2 separate regions of the Homo sapiens genome follow, and region 1 is linked to region 2. A link means that fine-mapping ties the variant in region 2 to the expression of a gene that starts in the linked region. Tissue or cell type: testis. Region 2 holds a variant in brackets; the other region holds the start of a gene. All regions are shown on one strand. Distances are between the middles of the regions.

Evidence for each region. PIP is the estimated chance that this variant, and not a neighbour inherited with it, causes the effect.
Region 1: TLN2 starts here. The variant in region 2 is fine-mapped to the expression of TLN2 in testis (GTEx, PIP 0.92).

Annotation. Positions count from the first base shown.
Region 1 is chr15:62,386,282-62,396,314 of GRCh38, forward strand. TLN2 (talin 2) reads left to right here and starts at 4,269. Exons shown (of 59, transcript NM_015059.3): 1 at 4,269-4,404. RefSeq lists enhancers at 3,689-3,758, 4,677-5,291 and silencers at 3,925-4,121, 4,169-4,498.
Region 2 is chr15:62,685,878-62,695,910 of GRCh38, forward strand. TLN2 (talin 2) reads left to right here. Exons shown (of 59, transcript NM_015059.3): 12 at 764-919; 13 at 6,963-7,064; 14 at 8,439-8,515. LOC105370855 (a long non-coding RNA gene) reads right to left here and starts at 2,148. Exons shown (of 5, transcript XR_007064673.1): 1 at 1,942-2,148. RefSeq lists an enhancer at 4,603-5,457. The variant G/A (reference allele first, on the strand shown) is at 5,054.

The DNA of each region.
Region 1 (10,033 bases), 300 kb before region 2:
TGTTCTGCATTGGGTATGATGATTACCATTTCCTGAATCTATCGGAGCAATTTCCTCTTTTCTTTTTATTTTTTTTCTTTCTTTTCTTTTTTTTTTTTTTTTTGAGACGGAGTCTTGCTCTGTCGCCCAGGCTGGAGTATAGCAGCACCATCTTGCTCACAGGAACTTCTACCTCTCGAATTTAAGAGATTCTCCTGCCTCAGCCTCCCAAGTAGCTGGGATTAGAGGCATGTGCCAATGCACCCAGCTAATTTTTGCATTTTTAAAAATAGAGACGGGGTTTCCCTATGTTGGTGAAGCTGGTCTTGAACTCTTGATCTCACGTGATCCGCCTGCCTTGGCCTCCCAAAGTGCTGGGGTTACAGGTGTGAGCCACCGTGCCCAGCCTCTTTTTTTCTTAAAAAAAAAAAAAAAAAAAAAAAAGAGGTAAGGTCTTGTTATGTTGACCAGGCTGGTCTCGATCTCCTGGCCTCATGCAATCCTCCCATCTTGGCCTCTCAAAGTGCTAGGATTGCAAGCATGAGCCATCATGCTCAGCCCAATTTCCTCTTTTAAATAGGACATTTAAATCTGTATCTGTCATGCTATCCTGAATAGTTAGAAATGAAATGAGGTCCTATGCTTTGAGATAACTAAAAAGCTAAAATATATTAATTTTTGCAAAATGTCAAATATTTGCTTTTCAAATAAATTAAAAATAACTTATGAACTATATGCTGTACTACAACTCAGATAATATTTCCTCCTGTAATTTTTGGTTAATATACTCTCCTAAAACTTATCAGAAAAGAGGTAGAGAGATTTCTAGAAACCTAAAGATATCAAATTACAAAAGAAGCCTAAGTATCTTCTTTTCATCTCTGGTTCTGAATGATGGACAATTTTGAGAAAATGTGGTTCCTACCTACCTTGCTCTCAGGAAAGGATACAAACATTTTTGAAAGAGAGGAAATCATGAACTGTTGGTGTATTGTATCAAGGGAGCCCTTTAAAATATTTTATTATGGCACAAAATATTCTCTTATAAATAAAGTATAACAAAATATTTGGTGGAATTTCTTTTATTTTTTCAACATGGACACAGTTGAGTTTGCTCAGCTATGAAAGCTGAGCAAAGCCACCCCAGATACCTACAAGTGCTCAACAGGAATTCAGGAGGTTAAGGCTCAGTGCAATGGGAGGAGAGGGGCAATCTCTCAGCATCCAGCTCTTTAGCACCAAGCAATGTCTAATTTGGTAATTACAAATCTGACTTGTGAAGAAAATGGTTTTTCGTTCCAGATATATTTATTACAAGTGACTTGGAAGCTATCTCTTTGACTTACCTCCCCAAATGTTCCACTCTTTATTCATACAAAGTGTATTTATTTTGCTACTTAAGATCTGCTGGGCAGAAGTAAGAGGCTGTAAGGCTTGAGAAATTGCTTAGATGGAATGTTTTATCTCCCACCCTGTTTTCCTCTGCTGGGTAGAGACGAAGCCCCAAAATGTAATCTTGTTAAAAAAAGTTAGATTTTGTTTTTTTAGTTTTTTTTTGCTGGTCTACAATGAACTATGATCACTCTGAATAAAGACAGCGACTACTAGTAGCTGACTCTAAATTTAGAAATAACTTTTTTTAGGTCTAGGGAGGCATCTCAATTTCAGAAAAGTTAGTAAAGGTTACTGGTAAAATTGCTTTTACTTCTACTGGGGAAATTTTTGAAAAATATAATGCTAGGACGTAGAATGGTTAGTTGATTTCTCTAAAAAAACAGTAAATGGTTTTTAGAGCCCTAAGAGTGGTTAGAAAAACCAGGAGCTGTAAAATTAAGAAGTGTCCAAAGCCAATTGGTTTGAAGCTAGAACTAAAGCTGAGTTCTAAGGCTGATGTTCTTTCTCACTGGGGGAAAGAATTTAATTGACCTTGGAAAGCCACAGAATAGTGCTATCTGGCTTATTAATGCCCAAATATTCAGACACCTGCACCTCACCCTTGTGAATGCCTTAGGATTTAGCTGGAACTTTGAAAAGTAACTGAACCAAACCAAGGCTATAACTCTACAGGATCTCAGCATCCCAGAATTTTGCTGACACTCTAATAGAATAGATAACTTTTCAAATATCTCAGGAACTAGTAAGATAGGTAGTGAACAAATAAGGCTATTTTCATAAAGCAGATTTTTATTGAGTACTTATTAAATACTATGTGTCAGGCTCCTTCAGGCACAGAGATACAGATGAGGTTCTTGCTCTCATGGAATGTAGCTTCCATTACTGAATGGCATCCCGCTGATGGGTAGTGGAAAAGTGTGGGGATACTTTCAAGAGGATGCATTAAGTAATGGAAAATCTTGAAATCCAGGTGTCAGAAAGATTTTGAGATGCTTGATAGGAAGCTATTGGGCCCTATGAACGGAGGACTAAGTGGAAGGGGAAAATCACTTAAGTTGCAACCATTTTTTCCTTTCCTTCTTGATGAGCCTCTTATGTAAACCTGGCATTTGGACCATAAAAATATGGTTATTCTTTGTTAGTAAACCAAGGAACAATTTAGGTGGCATTAATTTAGTGAGCTTATTACCAGGCTCATACAGAAATCAATAAACATGTACTTTTTAATCAACCCCTGAGGTGGCTTGTTGCCACCACTAGTTATTCTGTGAGACTGGTGAATGTTTAAAAAGGCGTGGTGAACAAAAATACTTTACCTGTACAATGAGAAATTGTGCCCTGCAATTTTTAGGACTTTCTCAAGTTGCCAAGTAATTGGTTCTCTCACTGTGCATTGATAATGTATACTTTGTTAGCTTTACAGTTTATATTCTGCAATAAGTTACAAAGTTGTACCCTAAGGTTATCTTTGCTGCTATGATACATACAGTCCGGTTCATCAGCCTGGTTAAGGACAGGGTATTGTTCTCACAGAATGTCCAGCCTTATCCAATGTTCCAACGGACTTATTCAAAATAATTTCAATTTACAAAATCAATTCAGTCTCCGGTTTATGGTGACAGCAGTTTCTTTCTCTGAGAAACACTAAAAAGTTGCCAGCAGTTCCATTTGAGTAACTGAATAGATTTGCTACCTATTTCCTGGTCCATTCTGTATTGGGATGGAAATAATGTCGTCTTTCCTTTTTTTTTTCTTTTTTGAGACAGAGTCCCGCTCTGTCATCCAGGCTGGAGTGCAGTGGTAGGATCACCGCTCATGCAGCCCCCGAGCTCCCGGGCTCAAGCGATCCTCCCACCATTCTCCCCAGTAACTGGGACTACAGGCATGCGCCCCCACACCCGGCTGATTTTTAATTTTTTTTGTAGAGATAAGGTCTCGCTATATTGCCCAGGCCGATCTTAAACTCCTTGGGCTTGAGATCTTCCTGCTTTGGCCTCCCAAAGTACTAGGAGTAAAGGGGTCATGGCTAATTCTTGTTTTTTTAAATTACTAATGTGTCCCTTACAGATAAATAAAAAAGTAAAATTACTCACAATTCCACCAATCACTGAGAGACTTATTGGTGTTTATCTATCCAGTCTTTTCTGCCTTTCTCCATAAATCACAGTTTTTAAAAACGGGACCATACGGTACATAGTGTTTTGTCTCCTCACCCCCTTGAATAACCTTCACATTGTTCCATGGTATTTACAGTATTTACTAATAATGACTGTAAATGTAAGAGGTATATAACTGACTTTATTCAGGGCATGGCAAGCAGGAGTGAATTATTTTCTTCTTATCAACACAGCACGCCCCTACCGCCACTCATCCCTATAGTCGTTCTCTAAATACCTAAGTGACACCTGACCAGCAAGGTTTCAGGGTCCTTGTGCTGAAAGGAGCAGGCTCGCCTGGGGTCACGGCCCTCCGCTTCGCAGCAAGACCCCACCGCCCACCACGGCCCTCCAGTTAGCCACAGCTCGCTTCCCCCAGGACCGGGCCAGAGGTCCCGAGAGGGCACTCTGCGGACCTAGGGGCCCCAGCCTACAAGACGCTGTGTCCTGCAGTCATCCCCTTTACACAGCAGAGCCCCAATTCTGGGAAGCCGGGGTCACCCCGAGCCTCCCTTCCCCGTGACAGCTCGGCCGGTGCATCACCTTCCCTCGCGGACCCTTTCAGCATCACCACGCGTGGGAGGAAACCCAGGACGGGCGCCTGAGCCTCGGTGGCGGCCCACCCCGGTGCCGCGCGGCGCCGCGGCCGGACCGGCGCCGCGCCGTCCCCGAATGATGACGCGCTTCCTGCCCTCCCAGCGCTCTCGGGCAGTGCGCTCGCGCTCGCCCTCGGCTCTTGTTCCGCGCCCGGAGCCAGCGGCGGCGGCAGCGGCTGAGGCGGCTGCGGGAGCGGAGTGGTCGCCCAGCGCGCGGGGGGACGCGGGCTGCACTCCCGGGCAGGCGCTCTGCAATGAGACAGTAAATGCATCCCCCGGTAAGGCGCACGGCTCACTCGGGTTTTCCTCTTCCTCCAGCTGCATGCACGTTGCATGAATTTCTCGTGTCTTTTCCCTCCCCTCTCCAGAAGGAAAATGTGGGGTTTTTTTTCCTCCCTTTTGCTTCTCGTGAGTGATGCCAATGCAGGAAAAACCCGTAAAGCTCCCAGATTTGATGGTCTAGGAGGGCTTCTTGCAGGAAAATAAAAATAAAATGAAATTAATGCACCTGTCTATTGCACATGTATGTTTCACTGCACCGGACCCGGGCGCAGCGGTTTGCAAACAGCCTCGCAGTCGGCGCCAGAGAGCGGATTCCTGGCCGTGGGCAGCCGGTCCCCTCCGGGGCTCTCGCTGGGTTTCCGGTAACTGGGCTTTGAAAAGCGGCCCCGCCTGCATAGAGTGTCCCCTCGACCCCAGCCGGGCCCCCGCGCCAGAAGAGTTGGCGCTGGAGGAGCAGCTTCATTCCAGCACTGGCCGCCGGGACTCCAGCGCCACTTTGCAAACAAGTCTCCCGCCGAGGCTCTGGGCTAAGACAGCCCGCCAGTGCGGAGTTCCTTCTCCGGTGCCGGACACTCAGACCTGCCGATCCCACGACTGCCCTTTACTTGGCAATCTCGCCACGGGCGAACTGCTGGCCGCTGAGCGACGGGGGCAGTGCCGGGCCGAGAGCGGGGCCAGGCTTTGCATCCAGTGCGGCTGGCCTCACACAGACTCAGCGGCTCCCTCTCCTTCCTCGGTCCCACGAGCTGAAATTTTGCGCCCATTGGAAGCTGGAGGGACCTGGAGACGAGTATTTCGGGATCCCTGAGGGGACCGAGGAACGACTTTCGAGGGCGCCATATTTTCAGTGGGTCTTGACTGCGGAGGGGAGGGGGCGAGCAGTTTCTGGGTCCCGGGGAGAGCCCCGCGCCCCAGTCGGAGAGGCCTGATCGGTTGTCGCCGGGAAAGTTTGCGCGCCGAGGCAGGCGCGGAGGCGGCCGCACAAGGCGCGCACGACTGCTGTCCCCGCAAGGGCGCGCGGACTACAGCGCGTCGCCACGCCAGCCGGCGGGGCTTGGGAACGAGAGCCGCCGTCACGGACAGCGTGCTGGGCTTGCCGCCTTCCTCTGTCCCGCCTGGACCCGGCCTTGGGGCTCCGAGGCTCAGGGAACACGCCCCTCTTCCCCGCAGCTACCGCTGCCCGGGTGCTCAGCCGGAGCCGTGCGCTGGGCGGCGTCCCGGGGCTGGGCGCCGAGTGTAGAGCGTTCTCCCGGTGCCCGGGCTCGCCTGGGTGCTCCGAGGGGCGCAGTAGCTCACTTCCTGGGGGAGAGGAGGCGCCTTGGTTCGTGGATCAGGACCAGGGCCTGGCCTGTGGTCGCCCCGAGGCCGCCGAACAGCCTGAGCTTCCAGTCGCCTCTTTGGCTTTAGCGGCGACAGCAGTAGCGCCCGCGGCTGCGTGTTCTGCTCTCGCAGCTCGTAGAGGCGAGGAAAGGAGGGCGTTTCCAGAAGTTGGGGCTTCAGGTGACGCGTGGGGAAACTTGGATTCTTGCTGTCCTTGAAGAGCTGGGACAACTTAGGCCAGAATTCCTGTGTCTCATAGTGAAAACTTCTGGTTCTTTCCAGAAGATGAGAGAGGAATGAACTGAAGTGTTGGCGTTGTCAAAGACATAATTAAAGACGGTTGGGTAGGGATGATGTCTTGGAGAAGTGGTCCCCAAAATACACGTAAATTGCCCTGGTGCTGTAAGTACCACTTACTTTTCCATTAATAATACCTGGGTGTGTTAAGCTGTGGCATTGTAAGGTTGCACGCTGACCTCCCTTCTCCAGAGCTTGGAGGCAGCGACCTCTCTGGAGTGAGGGGGAAGCGGGAGTGGGGAATCTTTACTTTTGAAGTAGACTGTGACCTCTGCTTTGTGATGGGACAGGGCACGGGCGTGTTTGCCAACCTACAGGCAGCCAATTGCAGGAACGTGTTCTCCTTGGAGTGTTACCGAAATGATGTCATAGTATTGAGGTTTTGTCGGCACTTCCGGTCTTCTTCACTGAAGAGGCTAGAAGGGACCACAGAAACCTCTGGGGTTGGGGGTTAGGTGTGCAGAGGGAGGGGAGAGGCTTTCCTGTGGGAGATGTGCCTGGAGATGTTAGGTGTTAGGCAGCTCTTTCCCTGATTCATTTCATGAAGCGCCTGCAAAAGTGACTCCGATATGAATGTCAGCCAAGATTTTACCTACCTTGATTGCTTATTTGGGACCTCTATGCAAAATCAGAGGATGGCGGTGGGTGTGACAAGTGGTCTTGAGAGAAGAGGGATGCCTACACGAATGCCTTTTTTTTTTCATTGAGCACTAGAATAGTGGAAAACACCCAGAGCCCAAGATATATTTTTCCAAAATTAGCATAGCTAATTTAGAAGAGAAATCAGTTGCAGAAAGCCTCAATCCGTTTTAAGTTTCCAGTCTTAGAGGGAGCACCTTAATCACAGAAACAGGTCTCTTCATATTGGGGAAGCCACTGGTTTCTCTCTGCCTTTGTAACCATTTAAGTTATCAGGGAGATTCCAAAGAGTATTAGAGGGTCTCTCTTTTTGGCATTGATGTGGAGCTTCTACCTCGAAAGAGAAAGCGAACTTTTAACAACTTGACCCTGTTGAATGAGTTACTAGGGATATTCTGTACAGGCATAGGCTATATATGTGTTTTGAACTCATCTACTGCTGACTCATTCAGGTTTTTCCAAACACTGTTCCCTAGAGTATTTTTAAGTGAAATTAGGGTTTAGGAAGAGGTGAGTATGTTATTTTCTAGTCAATATCTGTCTTTTCTCTCTCAAAATTAACCTGATTTCCCCTCCTTCACCCCTCACTCCCAGAACATCGTTAGTTCTCTAGAGCAGTAAAGGACGATTACAGGTGGTGAATGATATAAATTTTTACCAACTATGCTCAGAAAAAAACTATGCATCTAAATAGGTATTTATGCATTTTAGCGTTATGCTTTGTAACTATGTATATGCCACATATATTTTATACATGTTAAACCTTACATAATAAAAAAGAGAAGCTTTATTGCAAACCCTCCAATCTTTATTCCCAAGTTTACTACCTTAATATTTATCTTTTTTTTAATGCCTCTCTCAACAAATTGTTATACATCGTGCTTTGTTGCCTCTTGCCTGATTCTTTTTTTTTTTTTTTCCGAGATGGAGTCTTGCTCTGTCACCTCAGCCTTCCAAGTAGCTGGGACTGCAGGCACGCACCACCATGCCCAGCTAATTTTTGTATTTTTAGTAGAGACAGGGTTTCACCATGTTGGCCAGGCTGGTCTCGAACTCCTGACCTCAGGTGATCCACCCGCCTCGGCCTCCCAGAGTGCTGGGATTACAGGCATGAGACACCGCACCTGGCCAACCTGATTCTTAATCATCATAACTTCATGGCTTGACCAAAATTCTTGCATTTTTTTCCTTTTAAGATTTTGTAACTTCAAAAGGTTAGAAAACGAGTATGTGTTTTGGAAAGTTGCCTGTCTGTTTACCAGTCTGTGTAGTGGTGTTGTGATGTGTGTGTGGCATGTCCAGACTCTTGAGACAGTTTCTACAACTTGTGATCTGTGACATTATTGCTCCAGAACTTTTGAGTCATAATGTTTTCCTGATGATTTTGAGTGGTCGTTGGCCAGTACAGGAAGTACTCAAAAAGAGCTAAATAATTCAGTTATTTTTATTAGGTACAAAAATTTTAAAGACAAGAAGGAAAACATAATAAGCAGGCCTGGAATTACAGCTTAACATACCCACTGGTGCCTTTTTAATTACAGTACTTTCCCCAGAACTTTTTAATCGTATTACTTTTATATCTAATAAGGAGACTAGTTAAAACATAAGCCACACATAACTATTACAAATAATAGGGATAAATGGTGGGTATGACCAGATGTTTTGCCTAAAGTTCAAAGAGTTAGGGAATGTGAACTCTGTCAAATTTCCCCTGCAGGGCCCACACCCCCTCCTCAATAACCTGGAGAAAGGCAAAGAAGTCAGGGTGGAGGAGGGGAAGATAACATGCTTAAGGTAGACCTCTCTTGTGTGTTGACCACCCTGACAATCTTTGGCTTGGGGCAGGTGCCATTTGAATAACAGCTGGTGGACAAGGTTGGGTACAAAATGCTTTAGTTGTGAGAGTCTTTATATGTCACCCAGAGCTATGAATTAGGACTGGGCTCATTTGCCACCCATTTCACAGTGGAGTTTCAGAGACGGTGCCAAGACCATGGTTTTGTTTTTCTCTTAATCAACAATTTAATTTCAGTCAAACTGATGCTGTTCTGAAAATGTAGAACAAGGAATGAACATTTGTATTTTCTTTTTACTCTTTTAGCTGCAGTTTTAACAAACTTAATTCCCTACGTCTGTTATTCACTCATTCAGTGTATGTTTTTGAGGGTTTACCATGTACTTTATGCTGAGAAGACATCCCCTGCCCTCACAATGCCCACACATTGTGTTCCGAGGAGGTGATACTCTTTTGTACTTTGTGTATCTAGTAGCCAGGGCGGGGGTGGGGTAGAGGGTGGGGAGATGAGAATGTGATGAAATAGTAACTGAAATACAACATTATAAAAAGATGAGAAAAGGATGTGAGCAGGCAGTTCCCAGAACAAGGGATGCAAATTATTGTGTCTCTTCTCACCTTCTCTAGTGGACAGAGAAATACAAATTTAAAAACAGATATTATTTCCTGTCCATACAATTGATACATCTTTTAAAAGGTTGGTAATACTCTCTGCTCGATGGGGCAGGGTGGGAATTCTCAGACCATTGATATAAGTGTGAATTGCTACAACCTTTTGGAAAAGCAGATCATTTCTGTGAAAGTTTGGAGCACACGTGCCATGTGAGCCAGCAATCCCACATTTGCAGCCTTGTTTTACATTAGGAAAAACATTGACATGTAAGAATCTGTGTGTAAGGGTGTCTGTTGTAGGATTTTTTTCAGTAAATAAACCAGAAGCAACAAATGTTCATCAGTAAAATGAATAAAATAAGGTACATCCATAGTATGGATTATTTTGTGAGGGTAGTGCATAACATAATTAAAAATAATACATAAAATAAAAGCTAGTTGCAGAGTATCATATGTATGTTGCATGACCGTATTTCTGATTTTTTATTTTTATTTTTATTTTTTTGAGATGGTGTCTCAGTCGCACAGACTGGACTGCAGTGGCTTGATGTGGGCTCACTGCAACCTCTGTCTCCTGGGTTCAAGTGATTCTCCTGCCTAGGCTTCCCGAGTAGCTGGAATTACAGGCACCCGCCACCACACCTGGCTAATTTTTGTGTTTTTAGTAGAGACAGATTTCACCATGTTGGCCAGGCTGGTCTCGAACTTCTGACCCAAGTGATCCACCCGCCTTGGCCTCCCAAAGTGCTATGATTACAGGCATGAGCCACTGTGCCTGGCCTTATTTCTGATTTTAAAAAAGAAGCCCTATGTGTATGACCTTGGAGAAAGATGTGTAAGGACACCCAAAACTTAAATATTGTTTAAGATTAGCAGTGAGGAGGGAGAGGTAATTAACTTTCTCCATGTACGCTTCAGTTGGTTGACTTGTTCAAACACGCAGGCTTTTCTATATGAAAACA
Region 2 (10,033 bases):
TTTTGAGTTAAGCATATTAATCGTTTCCTTTATGGCTTCTTATGTTGGTGTTTTTCTTAGGAAATCATTTGTCACCCAAGGATCACAAAAATATCCACTTGGATGTTCTTCCTAAATTATTAATCTGTCTCTGTCTTTAATTTGTTTTGGTATGAGTGTGAGCTAGGGTTCCATTATTTTAATAGACATTACTATATCTTAAAACATTATTAAAACTAGTTATAAAATAAGTTTTAAGAATCAGTAGATATACAAAATTCCAAAACAAAGAATCCAAACAGAAATATATTTCAGAGATTTAAAAAAAAGGGCAGGAAGCTGTGTCTCCTCATAATGAGAAGATTCTACTTTGACAGAGTTTTAGTTAAGTTAATTTTAAATCTCAGATTAACCCTTGTTTGTTACTCACTGAGTTGGCCACTGGGAGTGATAGTACCTGGAATTCACCTTTGCTTGTTTTTCTCTGGATGTCTTTTCAGTTCTATCCCATCTTTCTGGCATCGTCTGTTTTTGGAGCAAGCTGCTCTCCTGAACAGGGGGCATGATTTTGTGGCTCTTTCCAGTCTTCTCATGTCTTTGTTTGAGTTCCCATGCCTTTAGTTTAATGAGTTATTCACCTAGCCTCAAAATCTTGGTTTCCCTATAGCCCTACCTGTTTTGAAAGACAGTGTATGCAGGTGAAAGGTCAAAAAATCACTGATTCCCTGGCAAAGTCAGATGTATTCAGAAGAAGAGCACTGACTCTTGGTATCTCCTGTTTCAGGAGAAGATGAAAGGCAAGAACAAGCTGGTGCCTCGCCTGCTGGGGATCACCAAAGACTCGGTGATGCGCGTGGATGAGAAGACCAAGGAAGTGCTGCAGGAGTGGCCCCTCACCACCGTCAAGCGCTGGGCAGCCTCACCCAAGAGCTTCACACTGGTAGGGACTGGCAGAGGGCAAGGAGAGCACTAGCGTGGCCTTGAGTGATATTGTGGGGACAGGAGAAAGACCAGATTCTTGCCCATTGGGTTTCTCTGGCCTGGGAGAGCCAGCGTGGAGTGAGGAAGATGGTGCAAGCCCATGGGCAGGGAAGGGGATGGGTCCAGAAGTAAAAGAGAGGTCAGCAAGCCTGGGTTTCTTCAGGCACTACTGCTTCTCTGCACTCTACATAAGTCAGCCTCTAGTTCATTATCTAGAAAAAGCCACTCACCCAGATGATTCTCAGTTCTGTGTTCCTGATGACATCCCTAGCATATACTGAAAGGAAACTTTCTAGTGCTCTGAGACACAAAGGCCCCCTCTCTGTTTTAGATGGTCCTAAGCATTGTGATTATCTTGCTGAGGAATGTTTTCCCAGCCTGCCTAGAAAGAGAGCATAGTACACAGTGGAAATAACGTGGACTTTAGGATAGTATTATTATAGAAATCCAGTTTGTCATTTCCCAGCTGTGTGACCTTGTTCAAGTTACCTTTCCTCTCTGAGCCTTAATTTCTTCAGCTATAAAATGGTGATAGTCCTACCTACAGAGCTGCTAGGATTGAATAAGATGAAGATAAGATGCTTAGTATAAAATTTATGGAAAGTAGTGAGAATATGTTTGTTTCAGGTCTTCAGACCTCTGAATTCTTCCTCCTGATTTCAACATTTGTTGTTAGCAGAGTATAACTCTATGCCTTAACTATAGCCACATTTACATGTGAAACACAATAGAGCGGGTGGTTGGTAGGGCAAGATGTGCAATAAGAAAAATCAAAAAGTGCTAGAATTTGTCAGTTCTTAAGACTCTTGAAGTCTCTAGTGAATGCTTGAAATATCACCTCTTATCTATGCAAGATATCATAATAGGACATCAGAAAAAAAACTGTGTAAAGAAGGGGCCATGGAAAGAGTCATTAGTTATCTAATTTGACTATAGATTGATAGGTTCCTGCCAATTATAAGGAATCATCAGAAAACATACCTTCTTTCCTCTTGTAGCTGTAACATTTGTGCCTGTGTGGCCCTCAAAAGATGAATGTTCATACTTAGCTGTGTCCTCATCTTCCATTGCAGGAAGTCATGGATGATTTCTAAATTAGAAAAATCAAGAAATCAATATAAACATATTATTTAGAAATACTAGAAGCAACTGCTAAAAGAGTTGAAAGTGGTTACCTTTGGAGAGGTATGTGGTAGAAAGTGAAGTTGGGAATGGGTAGGACAGGGAACAACTGTGTTTTGTTTTACATCTTGTAATACTATTGGTCTTTTTAAACTAGGTCCAAGTATTTATTGAAAACAAAAATTTATTTAAAAAATGAATAGTTATGATAACCTCATTAACTACCTCAGGCAAAAGAGAGAATAACAGTATTTTGATTAAAGCATAACGTCACATTAAAGCCCATTATACGTAGTGATTTTTTCCTTCCTACTCCTAGCCTTTATTTAATTTCCAAGTGTTTAGAGGTTTTTCTGCTGTCTTTCTACTATTGATTTTTTAGTTTGATTCCATTATGGTCAGAGAACATACTCTGTATGATTTCAGTCCTTTTGAAATTTTAAGGTTTGTTTTTATATCCCAGGATATCCTTTTTGGTGAGTGTTCTACGAGTATTCAAAAAGAACATATATTCTGCTATTATCATGTAAAGTGGGCTCTATAAATACCAGTTAGATCCCTATTAGTTGATGGTGGTGTTCCAGTCTTTTGAATGAATATCTTTGTTAATTTTCTGCCTGGCAGTTTTCTCAGTTGCCGAGAGTGAGGTTCTTAACAGTAATTATGGATTTTTCTACTTTTTCTTTCAGCTCTCAGTTTTTGTTTCATGTAATTTGAAGCTTTGTTGTTTGATGCCTGTACATTTAAGATTCCTCTATCTTAACAGAGAAGTTGTTTTTTCCTTATGTAATGTTATTTTCTGTTAGTAATTTTTGTTTTTCTCTGAAGTCTACTGTATCTAATGTTGACATAGCCACCAATGCTTTTTATAAAACTAATGTGGGCATGATACATCTTTTTCCATCCTTTTATTTTCAACTTGCATATACTGTTATATTTGAAATGAATTCTTGTAGAGAGCATAATTAGTTGGGTTATATTTTTTTAATCCATTCTATCTCAGTTTTAATTGGTATATTTACACTATATTTAAGCTAATTATTGATATGTTAGGGCCCAAGTCTATCATTTTGTAGTTTTTCTGTTTGTCCACTTTATTTCTCTCTCTCTTTTTTTTTTTTTTTTTGCCTTTTCTGTGGGTTACTTGGACACCTTTTTAGAGTTTGTTTGCTTTGTGTGTTACGTTTTGAGCATATCACTTTGTGTAGTGTTCTTAGTGGTTATTTTGGATATTACCATGTCCATATGAAATTAAACACAGTCTACTGGTAATGGCTTTTCCCCCTTAAGTGTAGAAACCTTACTTCCATTTAGGTCTTTTTACCTACCCACTCCCCACACTTTTTGAGTATAATTATTTAAATATTTTTTCAGTATACACATAAGATGGTTATTTTGTCTATAACCACATAAGATGGTGTTACAGCTTCTGCTTTGAACACAAAATGTGATGAAAGAAACTCATGAGGTGAAGAACCGTCTATTACACTTCCCTTTATTTTTATCTACCCCATTGTTCTTCTTGCCTTTCTAAAGTTCCCAGCCTTCTTCTGTTATCATTTTGTGTTTGGAGAGCTTCCTTTAGCTATTTGTTAAGGGTACATCTGCTAGCAACAAATTGACTTTGTGTTTTTTTCCTCTGAGAATGTTATTATTTCCCCTTCATTCATGAAGGATAATTTTGCCAGGTACAGCATTTGGGATTGACAGTTCCTTTCTTTTAGTATCTGAAAAGTGTCATGCCACTTCTTTCTTACCTCCATGGTTTCTAATGATAAATTTGCTGTCATTCAAGTTGGTGTCAATTTGTAGGTAATATGTCATTTTTCTGTGGCTGTTTTTAAGATATTTTTATCTCTAGTTTTCAAAATTCTTGGTATGGGCTTCTTTTTTTTTTTTTTTTTTTTTTTTTTTTTTTATTGGCTGACCCCCCTTCCTCCCTCCCGGACGGGGCAGCTGGCCAGGCGGGGGGCTGACCCCCCCCACCTCCCTCCCGGATGGGGCGGCTGGCCGACCCCCCCACCTCCCTCCCGGACGGGGCGGCTGGCCGGGCAGAGGGGCTCCTCACTTCCCAGTAGGGGCGGCCGGGCAGAGGCGCCCCTCACCTCCCGGACGGGGCGGCCGGCCGGGCGGGGGGCTGACCCCCCCCCACCTCCCTCCCGGACGGGGCGGCTGGCCAGGCAGGGGGCTGACCCCCCCACCTCCCTCCCGGACGGGGTGGCTGCCAGGCGGAGACGCTCCTCACTTCCCAGACGGGGTGGCTGCCGGGCGGAGAGGCTCCTCACTTCTCAGACAGGGCGGCTGCCGGGCGGAGGGGCTCCTCACTTCTCAGACGGGGCGGCCGGGCAGAGACGCTCTTCACCTCCCAGACGGGGTCGCGGCCGGGCAGAGGCGCTCCTCACCTCCCAGACGGGGCGGCGGGACAGAGGCGCTCCCCACATCTCAGACGATGGGCGGCCGGGCAGAGACGCTTCTCACTTCCTAGATGTGATGGCGGCCGGCCGGGAAGAGGCGCTCCTCACTTCTAGATGGGATGGCGGCCGGGCAGAGATGCTCCTCACTTTCCAGACTGGGCAGCCAGGCAGAGGGGCTCCTCATATCCCAGACGATGGGCGGCCAGGCAGAGACGCTCCTTACTTCCCAGACGGGGTGGCGGCCGGGCAGAGGCTGCAATCTCGGCACTTTGGGAGGCCAAGGCGGGCAGCTGGGAGGTGGATGTTGTAGCGAGCCGAGATCACGCCACTGCACTCCAGCCTCGGCACCATTGAGCACTGAGTGAACCAGACTCCGTCTGCAATCCCGGCACCTCGGGAGGCCGAGGCTGGCGGATCACTCGCGGTTAGGAGCTGGAGACCAGCCCGGCCAACACAGCGAAACCCCGTCTCCACCAAAAAAAATACGAAAACCAGTCAGGCGTGGCGGTGCGCGCCTGCAATCGCAGGCACTCGGCAGGCTGAGGCAGGAGAATCAG[G/A]CAGGGAGGTTGCAGTGAGCCGAGATGGCAGCAGTACAGTCCAGCTTCGGCTCGGCATCAGAGGGAGACCGTGGAAAGAGAGGGGGAGGGAGACCGTGGGAGAGGGAGAGGGAGAGGGGGAGGGGGAGGGGAGGGGGAGGGGTATGGGCTTCTTAAGATTTCTTCTATTTGGAGTTCACTCAGCTTCTTGAATTTGTGGGTTTAAGTCTTCACTAATTTGGGGAAGTTTTCAGTCATTATTTCTTCAGCTACTCTATTTTTATCCAACACTGTCCTCTCCTGTTACTCTGATGATATTAATGTTAGATCTTTTGTTACTGTCCTATAAGTCCGTGAAGCTCTGTTTTTTAGTTTCTTTTCTCTATATTGTTCAGATTGACTAAATTCTGTTGATCTATTTTCAGGTTTACTGATTTTATTTTTTATTATCTCCACACTACTATTTAGTCTATCCTGTGAGTTTTAAAATTTTGGTTATTGCCTTTTTCAGTTCTGTAATTTCCATTTGGTTCTTTTTTATGACTTCTGTTTCTTTGTTTGAACTTTTTATTCTTTAAAATTTGCTGCAAGAGAATTTGCAATTTATTGGTGAAGCATTTTTATGATGGTTGCTTTAAAATCCTTATAATTCCAATATCTGATTTATTTCAGTGTTGGCATGAGTTGATGATCTGTCATTCATATTGTGGGTGTCCTGGCTCTCGATATGAATATTTATTTTTTTAAGACATCCTAGACATCTTGGTTATTAGGAGACCTGTTTTTTTTGGAGACAGTCTCTCACTCTGTTGCCCAAGCTGGAGTGTAGTGGTGTGATCATAGCTCACCTCCTGGGCTCAAGCGATCCTCCTCCCTCAGCCTCTTGAGGAGCTGGAACTGCAGGCTCATGCCACTATGCCTGGCTAATTAAAAAAAAAAAAATTTATAGAGGTGAAGTCTCACCATGTTGCCCAGGCTGGTCTTGAACTCCTGGGCACAAGTGATCCTCTCGCCTCAACCTCCCAAAGTGGTGGGATCACAGGTATGAGCACTGTGCCCAGCCCATTGGGAGACTTCTGATCTTACTGAAATATTCTGTTATAGCAGGTGGCCACTTTGTTCAAGTTTAGCGTGTAGTATTCTGGCCTACTTTTCAGGGCTTAAGTTGCAATGACAGTTTTATTCTCTGAGCCCTTTCATTGCTATTCTGGACTGATTTTTTCTTTTGACACTAAGGTTCCTGCTCAAACCCTGTTGGTTCTGTCGATGAAGGCAGAAGGCACTTCCCTGGGCTACCTGCTATTGCTGGGTGACCTTCGTTGCAGGAAGCAGAGGGCACTGGAGCTGAGTCTCTTTAAGCCACTGGCTAGAGGGCAGGGAGACACAGGGCTTTACTGTGGCTGCTGCAGCAAAAGGGTCAGACCATCCACCTGCCTGGGTTGTGGAACAGGGCCTGGGAGGGTCTGAGGTTTCCCTGCTCTGCAGCTTCCTGTGAATATCAGCCCAGGTTGTTGAGCTGGAGTTGGAGCTCCTGACTAGTTCCCCAAATTAGTCTCTCTTGGGCTCCCCTTCTCCTAGTTCTTTGACTAAAAGCATGCTTTTCAGGAACTGCTTACTGGAGGTTCCAATGTTCAGGCCTCTACAACTCTTAGTCTTGGGGGTATATGGGATAGGAAAGAAGCCCAAGAACTCAACCACATTGTGGTTTTGCAAGTTCTGAGCCCCCCAGCCAGTCTGTCTTCTCAGTTTTCAGAGCTCTTTTACCGTTGTTGAATATTGTTGAATAAATTTTAGGATATTCATTTGTATTTAGAGAGGAGGAGCAGGGAAAATGAAGTCTATGTCATATTGTTCTAGAGCTGGACCTGCTAGCCTTTAAAATGCTGATATATCTGATTTGGCTATATTTCCTCCATTGCTGTCTTTTCAGGATTTTGGGGAGTATCAGGAAAGCTACTATTCAGTACAAACCACCGAGGGAGAGCAGATATCCCAGCTGATTGCAGGCTACATTGACATCATCCTGAAAAAGGTATTTTGTATTGATGCAAATTGGAAAAGCAAGACGGCTTTATTAAAAGGCTTGGTTTCGATGACGTGGCTACCTTGAAAAAAAAATCCTCTTAAATAATACTTGAGGCCAGGCATGGTGGCTCACGCCTGTAATCCCAACACTTCGGGAGGCTGAGATAGGCAGATCACCTGAGGTCAGGTATTAGAGACCAGTCTGGCCAACATGGCAAAACCCCGTCTCTACTAAAAATACAAAAAAGTTAGCCGGGCGTGGTGGCAGGCGCCTGTAGTCCCAGTTACTCGGGAGGTGGAGGCAGGAGAATCGCTTGAACCTGGGAGGCAGAGGTTGCAGTGAGCTGAGATCACGCCACTGTACTGCAGCCTGGGTGACAGAGCGAGATTCCATCTCAAAAAAAAACAACAAAACTTGATTTACTAATTTAATCTTTAATCACTAATTAAGTGTGAGATCTTTGACCTCAAGATCCTTTGAGAATTCCTGCTTTTTCTGCAGCACATATTTGTGTCATTTACTACCAGGCAGTGAACAATAGCATGTCACTTAGCTAATGAATGAGCCTAGCACCCCTCAGCATCTTCCTCTCCACGTAGCTGTACTGTGCTTTTCAGCCTCTGTGGGAACTTGGATTGAGGGGCCAAAAATGATCTTTGTAGTTTTCATGTTTTTTTTTTAAACAAATGTAATGGGGTTATATGCCATAGTGGTATATAGAAAAACAGATTTCTTAAGGCTTCAAGATACAGCCCATTCAAAAAACCAAGATTTAATAGAATGTTAATATGTGCATCTTGATTTTTTACTATGTAAAATTAAAGTCTGTGCAATAAATACGTGACATCTAACTATATATTAAATCATATATTTCTCTTTTTTATTATTATGCTTTTGTTCATCCATCGCTTACTAAATATCCAGTATAAAGAATTTTGAGTAAACTTCAACACTTTGACTTGTGTCCCTTCAAAATGTTTTTTTAAAGGTCCTTGTATGAAGACCTGCTGATTTTCTTTCTTTTTTTTTTTTTTTTTTTTTTTTTTTTTTTGAGACAGAGTCTCCCTCAGTCGCCCAGGCTGGAGTGCAGTGGCGCTGTCTCGGCTCACTGCAGGCTCCGCCTCCCAGTTCAAGCAATTCTCCTGCCTCAGCTTCCGGTGTAGCTGGGATTACAGGCTCCTGTCACCATGCCAGGCTGATTTATGTATATATATATTTTTTATTAGAGACGGGGTCTCACTGTGTTGACCAGGTTTGTCTCGAACTCCTGACCTCAAGTGATCCGCCCGTCTCAGCCTCCCAAAGTGCTGGGATTAGAGGCGTGAGCCACCGCGCGTGGCCTGGTTTTCATTTTTGCATCTTGTTTTATTGCATTTCCAGAAACAAAGTAAAGATCGATTTGGACTAGAAGGTGATGAGGAGTCAACCATGTTAGAAGAGTCCGTTTCCCCAAAAAAGTAAGTATTATGAAGAGTACTAGAGGACCACCTTCTCCCTAGATAGGTAGGTTTCCTCTTGCCAGCTTGGAGCCTGCTGCTCTGAAGCCTGTCACCTGGAGAAGATGACAGCAGATGATATAGTTGAATCTTCTTCAAGCGTGGTCCCCAGACCAGCAGCATTGAAGTGGCAGACGTCTCGTGAGGGAGGCTGAGGATTTTAGGGAAACATTGACCAAGGTGTGGCATTTTAACTGCGTCTTTTGAGGCAGTAAGTGTTCATGAGTCCTGTTCTGCATTTCTGATTTAAATCTCATGATCGAATCATGATCATTGAGCCGTACCGTCAGGAGGTCAGAGGATGAGCCTCTGTTTGATTCTGGCCCCTTTTGTGGGAGGAGGGAGTGCAGCCAGTGGCGGAGTTACGGTGAAGCACTGCTGCATGCCACGCTTGTCTCGAGTGCTGTGAGGTAGCATAGTGCAGGCGAGTGGTTAAGAATATGGACTCAAATCTGGGGTCTCTGTTTCACTGTGTGGCCCTGGGAAAGTTACTAAATTCTCTTCTGGCATGAGCTTATCTATAAAATGGGGATAATGATATTACCACCTAAGTAGGTTTTATTTCCATGGTAGTTACTAATAAAGCACATAAAACAATGCCTGGCACATAGCACTTGCTATTATAACTATCATCCTCATGATCATTGTTTTAAATTCATGGTATTCTTAATTTAGCCCCATTTATAGATGAGGAGATAGGTTTATTAAAATTAAGTAACATCTAATAAATGGCTCTTTTTGGGAAACCTATCCAGACATCCCTTTTATGTTAATAGAGCAATGTAATGACTGTTCTTGTATGCTTTAGTGTGACATTTTGTCTCATCTGGAATTCCAATAACAACTCCCTATGCAAAAGGGAGGCCAGGGGTCTCAGCCAAGGAGCAACGCAGGAAGAAGTGGAAGGTCTAGCGATGGGGACAATCCTGACCATTCTTCCTGCTTGCCTTGATAAGACCCCACAGTGATGCTCTGGGCAGTGGAGGAGGCTACAGTGGTCCCAGGCAGGATCTATCTTTCCCAGTCCACGGATAAGGAAACTGAAGCTCATGAAAGTTAGTTGAGATACACATATGTGGTAGAGCCAGGACTCAGATTCAGATCTTGCGATGTTTCCCATAGTACGCTGCTAGAAAGTTCTAGCATCTTCCAATCCATTAAACTTGCTTAGCTGTAGTAGTTTCTCTAATATTTTCACCCTTGCTGCCAGTTTCTCACAATTTGCTTCCTAATCACCCAAAAGGTGTTTTTCCATTTGTCCCCACTAGTACGCAAGTTGGAACCAAACTTGATATGATAAGTTTCTAGTACTTGCCACCCTTGGGCAGAGCACCTTAAGTCTTTGGAATTATTCATGACCATTGGATGTAAATTAGTGAGCTAGTGCTCCCTGACAGGGTGATCTGCGTCACTTCAGAGGACTCTGCTGTGCTTTGCTTCCCATAGGAGCGGCCCAGTAAGTGTCTGAGCCCAGAGGGC